Linked DNA regions of Homo sapiens. The protein of the gene in region 1 purifies or fractionates together with the protein of each later gene. This does not show direct contact. Each region holds a gene or a part of one and is shown in the gene's direction. Other genes may lie near its edges. The genes, in order: OSBPL10, NIPSNAP2 and DPP3.

Region 1 (3,654 bases):
TTGATTCCACTGCCACTTCTCATTTCTTTGATATTGTTTCCCTTGGTTTGTCATGTGTGCACAAGTCAAAACAGACTGCTCCCTGGCTGGAGATGTTATGAATTTGCTTAACAGTGGTTGCAGCCTTTACCTTTCTTTTCAGCTTTTCCGTGTAATCCCAGGGATTGTCTGACTTTGTGTCCTTCCAAATGCAGGTGGTGCTTCCCACCTTTATCCTGGAGAAGCGATCTTTGCTGGAGATGTATGCAGATTTCATGGCGCACCCAGACCTACTGCTGGCCATCACCGCTGGGGCCACACCAGAGGAGAGAGTCATTTGCTTCGTTGAGTATTATCTCACAGCCTTTCACGAGGGCCGCAAGGGCGCTTTAGCCAAGAAGCCCTACAACCCCATCATAGGCGAGACATTTCACTGCTCCTGGGAAGTTCCCAAGGACAGGGTCAAGCCTAAGAGGACTGCTTCCCGCTCTCCTGCCAGCTGTCACGAACACCCAATGGCCGATGACCCTTCCAAAAGCTACAAACTAAGGTTTGTGGCTGAGCAAGTGTCCCATCACCCACCCATCTCCTGCTTCTACTGTGAGTGCGAGGAGAAGAGACTGTGCGTCAACACTCATGTATGGACCAAAAGCAAGTTCATGGGCATGTCCGTGGGGGTCTCTATGATAGGGGAAGGTAAGCCATGTCGTATGTTGGAGTTTGGCTCTTACACAGTGACGTTTCTATACCTGGTAGATGATTGATAATTTTGTGTGTGGAGTTTTTTGTTGTTGTTGTTTTTAACTGGTTTTGGAATTAGAGTGTGGGTGGTAAAAGGGTCAGGTTTTGTTGTTTGGGAACAAGGTCTGGTAATTTCCCAGCGGGGCCAAGGTAACGGACTATCTGCCTGACAGCCGCCCACCTGGACCTTCCCACCTGGACCTTCCCATGCTGTGCACGCGCGTGCGTGCACACCTTACAGGTACTGTTTTCTTTCAGCTTTGCATGAATATAAGAGTTGGCCTCCAAATCTGTGAAAACACATTTTTATTCATTCTCACCGGTGTTCTGGCTCACAGACAATGAGGATAATCATGCTGCCTATTCAAAATCTGCTCGTAAAAATTCCCAAAACAAATCTTTTGACTCTATGCTGGAAATTCTGAAGCAAGAACATAGTATAATCACGCCACTGGTGGATCACACATTCTTATTTTAGCAAATAGCTGTGAATGAAGTTTATTCATTGTTTGAAGAAACCTATAATAATCCTTGTTAAATTCAAGCATCTGTGTTACTGGTTCTTCAACTTTTTTTTGAGTCACAAATCTCTTCAAGGCTCTAAGGCTGTGATTCTCTTCCTAGAAAAAAGGAATCTAACTCCAAATTTGTCTTTGAGTTTCAGGGAGTACATGGCTCCTTAGAAGCCCTTCCAAAACCCCATGAGATAAGAGCACCTTTCATTCACTTAGCACATTTTTATTGAGCACCTACTAGATGCTTGGCATTGCCTTAGGAGCTGTGGTTACTTGAGCAAACAAAACAGACCAAAAAAGATCTGTTCTGATGATGCTTCTGTTCTCCTTCTTTCTCACGGGGAAATGAAATAAATAAGTAAATAAAATGGATTGTGTGGTAAGTTGAAGAATGGTAAGTGTTGTAGAGAAACAAAGCAGGTGGGGGTCCGGGGAAGACCAGGGAGAGGGCAGTTGAGCTTTCAGATGAGCTGGCCAGTGGGAAGGCCTCACTAAGGTGATATTTGAGCAAAGACCCAAAGCGGGCAAAGAGGGGTAAGGCAAGCCTTATAGGTCACTGGGAAAGAGTTTGTGTGCAGAAAGAATGAGGCAGAGGCCTACAGGTAAAATGTCCCTGGCACGGGGATGGAGACAGGAAGCCCATGTGGCTGGAGCAGGGTGAACAGGGGCAGGTGGAGGTCAGGGAGGTGATGGTGGCCAGATCACATAGGACCTCATGGGCTATTGCTAGGGACACTGGCTCTTACAGTGAGGGAGCCCTGAAGCCACTGGTGCTTTTGAGCTGGAGAGTACCAGGCTCAATCTCATAGTTCAGCAAGACTGCTCCAGCCGTTTGTTGAAAACAGACCCTGGGCGGGGGTAATGGTGGAAACAAGGAGACTAGGGAGGAGGTTGTGAGAATAACTAAGCAGGTGATGATGGTGGCTTGGACCAGGTGGAAAATAGTGGAGGAAGTAAATGTAGTGGAGTAGTAAGGATCTGGATAGGTTCTAAAGTTAGAGCCAAGAGGATCTGCCTCTGGATGGGATGTGGAGTGTGAGAGAAAGTGTTGCCAAGGTTTTGACCTGAGCACCTAGAAGGATGGACTAGCTGTTAAAACTGAGATGGGGAGACTTGAGGGCTGGGTATTGGGCTACTTTGAAGGAAGAGTATGGGAGCTCAGGGCGGTTGTTAGGGTTTAGTCATTGAAGGGAGTGCTAAAGTAGGCAATTGTGTATGCAAGCTGGAGTTTCATAGGGAGGGTCCTGGCTGAGATAAAATATTTAAGGCCTTGAGACTAATGAGACTGCTGAGTGAGCACTGATTTCTGAAGCATTAAGCAGCATTAAGAGGTCTGCAAGATGAACAGCCAGCCGAGGAGACTGATGAGGGGTGGCCAGAGAAGTAGACTGAATGGAATGGGAGAAGGTGCTCCTTGCGAGGCAAGTGAAGAAGGGCTTCAAAGTGCGAGAGTGATCAACTGCATCACATGATGCTGGTTACTCCAGTAAGATGAGAACTGAGAAGGGATCATGGATTTTGGATCATGGAGGTCATTCGTCACCTTGACAGCAGTTGTCAGTGGAGTAGCACTAGTGAAAATCTGACTAGAATAAAGTCAAGAGAGAAGGAAGGAGAGGAATTAGGGACTGTAAATGTGGACAGTTCCTCCTTATTTAGGGTTTGCATGCAATGGTACTGTTTTGGAAAATAGCCACTCTTGGGTTCCACTTCTCTGTTAGGTTTACACCCCAAAGCGCTGCTCCCCCTCTTGCATAGGTAAGATGGCAACTCCAGAGTGCCCACAGGTGTACTCAGCATTCGTGTTGGGCCTTCACTGGGGTCTTCCTTGCATGCAGGTCTAGTAATCAGCAGCTCATGCTGCACTCGTCACACCTTCCTCTCAAGGATCAATCAGGATCAAGAAGTTCACCAATGAGACATTCATTAATTTGTGTAGGAAGCTAGGGACACACCTGTCACCAGGATGATCTTGGGTCACCCAGTTTAGGCCTTTTCCACAATTCAGATGGAGGTGGGTTGTATCTGTGGGGGAAAGATGTAAAAATACATCTATCTTTAGATAAACCTCATCAATAATGAGTATTATCCTCCTCTTAGGTTATCTTCTGTAAGAGTGCAGTATTACAACTATTTTCCAATTAGAAAAATCCCAATTCATGACTGGGTTGTCTGGCTTTTCCTGCTGTTGACAAGGGGAGATGGATGCCTGAAGTGGTCTCTCTTCTTAAAGAGGAGTTGTTACCAGTGATGACTGGACCATGAAATCTTGTAGCTGAAAGGGCATTTGTCCACCATATGCTCCAGGGTTTCCAGCTGTGCTGTAGAGAATCCCAGGCTCCTTAGAGGGGCACAGGAAGTGAGTGGCAAGGTTGGTGTTCTTCCAAGTCCACTCCAGCCCGAGTATCTCCATCCATCC
Region 2 (3,654 bases), on another chromosome or scaffold:
GTTTTGTATAGTGCACCCTTCCTTATCCTCTGGAAAGTGCCCCCTACCATCTTGGCGATTGTCACTGTCAGTTAAGAACCCAGGCCCAAGCCAGATCTTATCATTTGGGCAGCCGTTGGCATAGCTGCGACTCGAATGACTAGATAGGTTGGGCATGTTAGGCAGCTTTGGTCACCTGACACTCAAAGATTTCAGTTTGACGGTTGGGGGTAGTACTGGCCGGCTTGTTTTTCATTTGTCAAGACGATTGCTGCCCAAGTTCACAAGCAAATGCCACTCAGGTTCTTTTGTGTGTGCTGTGTTGATTTAGTCTCACCCCCTGCTCTGCATTTTTCGATTACTAGCATTGTCACATCCCTTACCTCATTGTACCCACCCAAAGGGGAATCCCTTTGGTATTATTATTTGTTTGTTTGTTTTAGAGGTGGTCTTGCTCTGTTGCCCGGGCTGGAGTACAGTGCATGATCATAGCTCACTACAGCATTGAACTTGTGGGCTCAAGCGATCCTCCTGCCTCAGGTTCCTGGGTAGCTAGGACCATAAGCACGAGCCACCATGCCCAGCTACTCTTTTTATTTTTTTTTGTAGAGACAGGGTCTTCCTATGCTGCCCAGGCTGACTTTGGTGTTTCTGAGATATGAAATAAATGCTCAGTTGGGGTGATTTTTATTTCAAAGGCATCCTTTATCAGTGAAAATATTATCTGTCTATAAATATACATAATATATGTTTGCCTCTGTATTTCTGGAAGGATATACATAAAACTATTAGTAGTCATTGCTTTAGTATTTCTTATTTTAAGTGAAACTCCCTAGTCAGTATTTTTAGACACTTTTTATTATATCCCTTTCTTAATTGTTCATAATTGTTATTCCTAAGCTTTTACAATTTATTTAACAAAAAAAATTGTAGACACAATTTCTGTTTAATGAACTTAAAATCTAAAATAAACACAGAAATTGGCTGGGCACAGTGGCTCACACCTATAATTCCAGCACTTTGGGAGGCCGAGGCAGGTGGATCACCTGAGGTCAGGGGTTCAAGACCAGCCTGGCCAACATGGTGAAAACCCACCTCTACTAAAAATACAAAAATTAGATGGGTGTGGTGGTGGGTGCCGCTAGTCTCAACTGCTTAGGAGGCTGAGGCAGGAGAATCACTTGAACCCAGGAGGCGGAGGTTGCAGTGAGCTGAGATTGTGCCACTATTGCCCTCCAGCCTGGGCAACAGAGCAAGACTCTGTCTCAAAAAAAAAAAAGAACATACAGAAATTACATAGTCCCATAAACAAATCTTAAAACTTTCTACTTTGTGTATCACTAATTTTATATGGTTGCCTTAAAGTAATGCGTAAGTTTCTTTTTTCTTTTTCTTTTTTTTTTTTTTTGAGACAGAGTTTCACTCTTGTTGCCCAGGCTGGAGTGTAGTGGCGTGATCTCGGCCCACTACACCCTGCACCTCCCGGGTTCAAGCGATTCTCCTGCCTCAGCCTCCTGAGTAGCTGGGATTACAGGCATGCGCCACCATGCCTGGCTAATTTTATATTTTTAGTAGAGACGGGGTTTCTGCATGTTGGTCAGTCTGGTTTCCCGACCTCAGGTGATCCACCCGCCTCCTTGGCCTCCCAAAGTGCTGGGATTACAAGCATGAGCCACTGTGCCCAGCCCATGATATTATTAAACAGATATCCCTAAATGTAGTGTACGTAAAACACTTCAAACTAATTGACAAAATGTGCTTTCATTTTTATTGGAATATGGCTGGGTGTGGTGGTTCACGCCTATAATCCCAGGACTTTGGGAAGCTGAGGCAGGCAGGTCACTTGAGCTCAGAAATTCAAGACCAACCTGGGCAGCATGGTGAAACCCTGTCTCTACAAAAAAATACAAAAATTAGTTGGATGTGGTGCTGGGCACCTGTAGTCCCAGCTACTTGGGAGGGGTTGAGACAGGAGGATAGCTTGAACCCGGGAGGTCGAGGCTACAGTGAGCCAAGATCACGCCACTGCACTCCAGCCTGAGTGACAAAGTGAGACCCTGTCTCAAAGAAAAAAAAAATACAGAAGAGAAAAGCACAATATAGACATTATATGGAGAAAGCTGTGTGTCTTTCCCCTCTATCCCTTTAAACCATTTTCTCAGGGAAACCACCATTAATGCTTTCTTAATTTTTAGGAATTTTTATATATAGTAAACACAAATTGGAAGCATCTTCAACTTACATCTGCAAATGCCACTTAATACTATATGTTTTTATCTTTCAAGAAAAATTGCATTTACTGGTATTGTTATTTTGCTTGTTTAAAGTGAGTTTGCTTCTTTTTAATCTTTGAAGGATGTGAAAACGTGCTTTTATATTTCTTTATAATTATTTATAGAGCACATTTTATTTTTAATTTATTTTATTTTATTTTATTATTATTACTTTTTTTGAGATTGAGTCTTGCTGTGTAGCCCAGGCTGGAGTGCAGTGGCACGACTTGGCTCACTGCAATCTCCACCTCCTGGGTTCAAGCGATTCTCCTACCTCAGCCTCCTGAGTAGCTGGGATCACAGGCGTGTGCCACCACACCCAGCTATTTTTTTTTTTTTTTGTAGTGTTAGTAGAGACAAGATTTCACCATGTTGGCCAGGCTGGTCTTGAACTCCTGACCTCAGGTGATCCACCTGCCTCGGCCTCCCAGAGAGCTGGGATTTAGAAGCGTGAGCCACCACTCCCGGCCAATATATTTGTATTTGTAAGTTCACATCATTCAAAAATCTTTATATCTGGTTTCTACCTATTTGAGACAATATCCTATGAATTGGTTTTTAAATTAAAAGAACATCATATTGGGGAGAAGATTGCTCTGTAATGTTTGTTCAAGAAAGCAGCAAACTAGGCTGAGTGCGGCAGCTCACCCTTGCAATCTCAGCACTCTGGGAGGCTGAGGCTGGCGGATCACTTAAGGCCAGGAATTCGAGACCAACCTGGCCAACATGATGAAACCCTGTCCCTACTAAAAATACAAAGATTAGCCGGATGTGGTGGCATGCACCTGTAGTCCCAGATAGTCAGGAGGCTGAGGTGGGAGAATTGCTGGAACCTGGGAGGCAGAGGTTGCAGTGAGCCGAGATTGCACTACTGCACTCCAGCAAGTGCAATGAGACCCTGCCTCAAAAATAAATAAATAAAGCAGCAAACTGATTTTTTAAGCAAAAAAAAAGAAAGAAAGAAAGAAAGAAAAAGGCTGCCAGTATCATGTGAAATTTAGAGCCCTACTTCTAAAATACCGTTGCTGCATAAGAATAGGAATTTCTATTATTGTAGTATGAAATCCATGTGTTCATTTCATGAAGTACTGGGGAATTTGCTCTCATGAGAGTTTTTCTTGTCCCTTGTTTAAATTCCTGGTCCCCCTTTTTAATACCTGGAGTTGCTCTTTCTTTTCCTCTTAATGTTTACCTGGTGGTATCTGGGTGCTTAAGCAAGTCTACCAAGCAGATTAGAAATACTATTGTAGAAGGCTGGGCGCAGTGGCTCACGCCTGTAATCCCAGCACTTTGGGAGGCCGAGGCAGGCGGATCATGAGGTCAGGAGATCGAGACCATCCTGGCTAACACGGTGAAACCCCATCTCTACTAAAAATACAAAAAATTAGCCGGGTGTGGCGGC
Region 3 (3,016 bases), on another chromosome or scaffold:
GGATGATAAGATATGGAGATAAATAATCATACAAGGGGGCCGGGCGCGGTGACTCACACCTGTAATCCCAGCACTTTGGGAGGCTGAGGCAGGTGGATCACAAGGTCAGGAGATCGAGACCGTCCTGGCTAACACGGTGAAACCCCGTCTCTACTAAAAATACAAAAAATTAGCCAGGCATGGTTGCAGGCGCCTGTAGTCCCAGCTACTCAGGAGACTGAGGCAGGAGAATGACCTGAACCCGGGAGGCGGAGCTTGCAGTGAGCCAAGATTGCGTCACTGCACTCCAGCCTGGGTGACAGAGCGAGACTCCATCTAAAAAAAAAAATAATAATAATAATCATCATCATAATCATACAAGGGAAGTGTTAATGAGTGGCCAAAACATATAAACAGAACTCTGAACACTTAGAGGAGGGAAGATCGCATCCATCTTCAAGAGTATCCGGGAACGTTCTGGGGAGGAAGGGGTGGTTCCCACTAGATCTGAAGAACAGGTTGGATTTTCAAAGGTTGTGATGGTGGTGCACTGTAAAAAGTTTTTTTTTTTTTTTTTGAGGTGGAGTCTCACTCTGTCCCGCAGGCAGTGGTGAGATCTCGGCTCACTGCAACCTCCACCTCCGGAGTCAAATGATTCTCCGGCCTCAGCCTCCCAAAAAGCTGGGATTAGAGGCACCCACCACCATGCCCAGCTAATTTTGTATTTTTAGTAGAGATGGGGTTTCACCATGTTGGCCAGGCTAATCTCGAACTCCTGACCTCAAGTGATCCACCCGCCTCAGCCTCCCAAAGTGCTGGCATTACAGGTGTGAGCCACCACACCCAGCCAGGTCGCTGTAAAAGCTTTCTATGGCTTAACTCCTAACAACCCAGAGAGAAATGGTTATTATCCTCATTTTTCATCTGGAAAATGAGGCACAGAGGGGCTGTGTATTTGCCTGCGGTCACAAAGCTGTTGGGTGGCAGAGCCAGAACTTGAACTCCAGAGCTTGTGCTCTTTGCTGCTGTGCAGCTTGTGATGTCATGGAACACGACAAGGTGCACAGAGAGGGTAGAGCAGTTGAAGTGTGTTTGAGGGCAGTGCTTCCCGGGGGTATTCAGGGGACCCTCAGAACAGCCCATTTAATAAATCAGTAAACAGGTTCGGAGATAATGATGCCATGGTGGCTAGCATTTGTTGAGCACCCCCTCGATGTGTGACTATGTCATCACTGCAGCTCCTTTACAGATGAGGAGACTGAAGCTTGGGAGGTTGCAACACTTGCCCCAGGTCCCACAGTAGACAGATGAAGTCGTTGCTGAATTGTGAGCTTCAGGACACCAAGGACTGTATCTGTTTCACCTAGTGTGGCACCTGGTGTCTTTTATTATTTATTTATTTATTTATTTATTTTGAGGTGGAATCTCACTGTCACCCAGGCTGGAGTGCAGTGGCACGATCTCTGCTCACCGCAACCTCTGCCACCCGGGTTCAAGCAATTCTCCAGCCTCAGCCTCCCGAGTAGCTGGGACTACAGGCTCATGCCACCACGCCCAGCTAATTTTTTTGTATGTTTAGTATAAACAGTGTTTCATCATGTTGGCCAAGCTGGTCTCAAACTCCTGACCTCAGGTGATCCTCCCACCTCAGCCTACCAAGGTGCTAGGATTACAGGCATGAGCCACCATGCCCAGCCTAAATCTTTATTTGATTGACTGAATGAACGAAAGCAGCAATGCATTTAATACTCCCCCTGTAGTATTTCCTTCCTCACAGGGTTACTGTAAAGAGTAAATTAAGTAATTAACCTAAAACGTAGAGCACAGGTTTTTTTGGCAGAGCTCAGTAAGAAACAGCTGCTGCTGTAATTGTGATTATTAAGATTTTTATGATGATTCAGTTTCCCTATTCAGACCTTTCCCTGCTGTTTTCTCTCCATCTCCTCCCCAGGCTCAGACGTGCAGCTTCTGGAATACGAGGCGTCAGCTGCTGGCCTCATCCGATCCTTCTCTGAGCGTTTCCCAGAGGATGGACCCGAGTTGGAGGAGATCCTCACACAGCTGGCCACAGCCGATGCCCGATTCTGGAAGGGCCCCAGTGAGGCCCCATCTGGCCAAGCTTGAGGAAGATGTGTGGCCTTGCCCCCAATTCCATCAGACCAAGGCTGCAAGTGGCCCTCCATTCGTGTGTGTATTTAGGGGCTGGGGAGGGGGAGGGGCAGGAGCTTGGACCTTGGTACTACCTCAGCTGAGGGTGGTGACACAACCCCTTCCATTTGTCAGCACTTTCCAGCCTGCCAATTGCTTCCCCTCTGTGATCTCATTTCATCTGCACTGCCATACGTGGAGTGAGCAAGACAGGGCTTACCATCCTGTCTACCAGATGAGGAAATGGCAGTTCTGAGAAGTCACTGGTCTAGATCCCGCAGGTGGCACGTGACAGCTAGGGTTCAAAACGTTCTCACCAAATCCAATGCTCCTCACATATTAATTTTATAACCAGACAAATAAATATTAGAGACAACCACCATCTTTGCGGCGTGTGTGGCTCCTCCTTGCCTTTGCCTGTCTTCTCATTTACTCCCAGCAGAGTGATGGGCTCAAGGCCTGGGGAGGGGGCAAGGAGGGCCATTTTTAGCCTCCCTTCCACAACAGGATGTTGACATTATCTCTAGATGAGGATACGCAGTCACAGAGCTGAACATAGCACAATTTTTGCAGCTCTCCTTTGTGGCATTCCTTGCATTTTTAAATGTTCTGGGGCCGGGCACGGTGGCTCATGCCTGTAATCCCAGCACTTTGGGAGGCCGAGGCGAGGGGATCACGAGGTCAGGAGTTCGAGACCGGCTTGGCCAATATGGTGAAACCTCGTCTCTACTAAAAAATAAAGTAGCTGGGCATGGTGGCATGCGCCTGTAATCCCAGCTACTCGGGAGGCTGAGGCAGGAGAATCCCTGGAACCCGGGAGGCGGAGGTTGCGGTGAGCCGAAATCGCGCTACTGCGCTCCAGCGCAAGCGACAGAGCGAGACTACGTCT

What was found.
Region 2: the proteins of OSBPL10 (region 1) and NIPSNAP2 purify together in Homo sapiens (affinity purification with mass spectrometry; one large-scale study listed by BioGRID and IntAct). This does not show direct contact.
Region 3: the proteins of OSBPL10 (region 1) and DPP3 purify together in Homo sapiens (co-immunoprecipitation; one large-scale study listed by IntAct). This does not show direct contact.

The regions. Positions count from the first base shown.
Region 1 is NC_000003.12:31,680,655-31,684,308, reverse strand, and holds part of OSBPL10 (oxysterol-binding protein-related protein 10), read left to right. Parts: intron 1-194; coding exon 195-675; intron 676-3,654. UniProt on the Homo sapiens protein: Probable lipid transporter involved in lipid countertransport between the endoplasmic reticulum and the plasma membrane.
Region 2 is NC_000007.14:55,971,063-55,974,716, forward strand, and holds part of NIPSNAP2 (protein NipSnap homolog 2), read left to right. Parts: intron 1-3,654. UniProt on the Homo sapiens protein: Protein involved in mitophagy by facilitating recruitment of the autophagy machinery required for clearance of damaged mitochondria.
Region 3 is NC_000011.10:66,507,149-66,510,164, forward strand, and holds the end of DPP3 (dipeptidyl peptidase 3), read left to right. Parts: intron 1-1,930; coding exon 1,931-2,103; 3' UTR 2,104-2,509; downstream 2,510-3,016. UniProt on the Homo sapiens protein: Cleaves and degrades bioactive peptides, including angiotensin, Leu-enkephalin and Met-enkephalin. Also cleaves Arg-Arg-beta-naphthylamide (in vitro).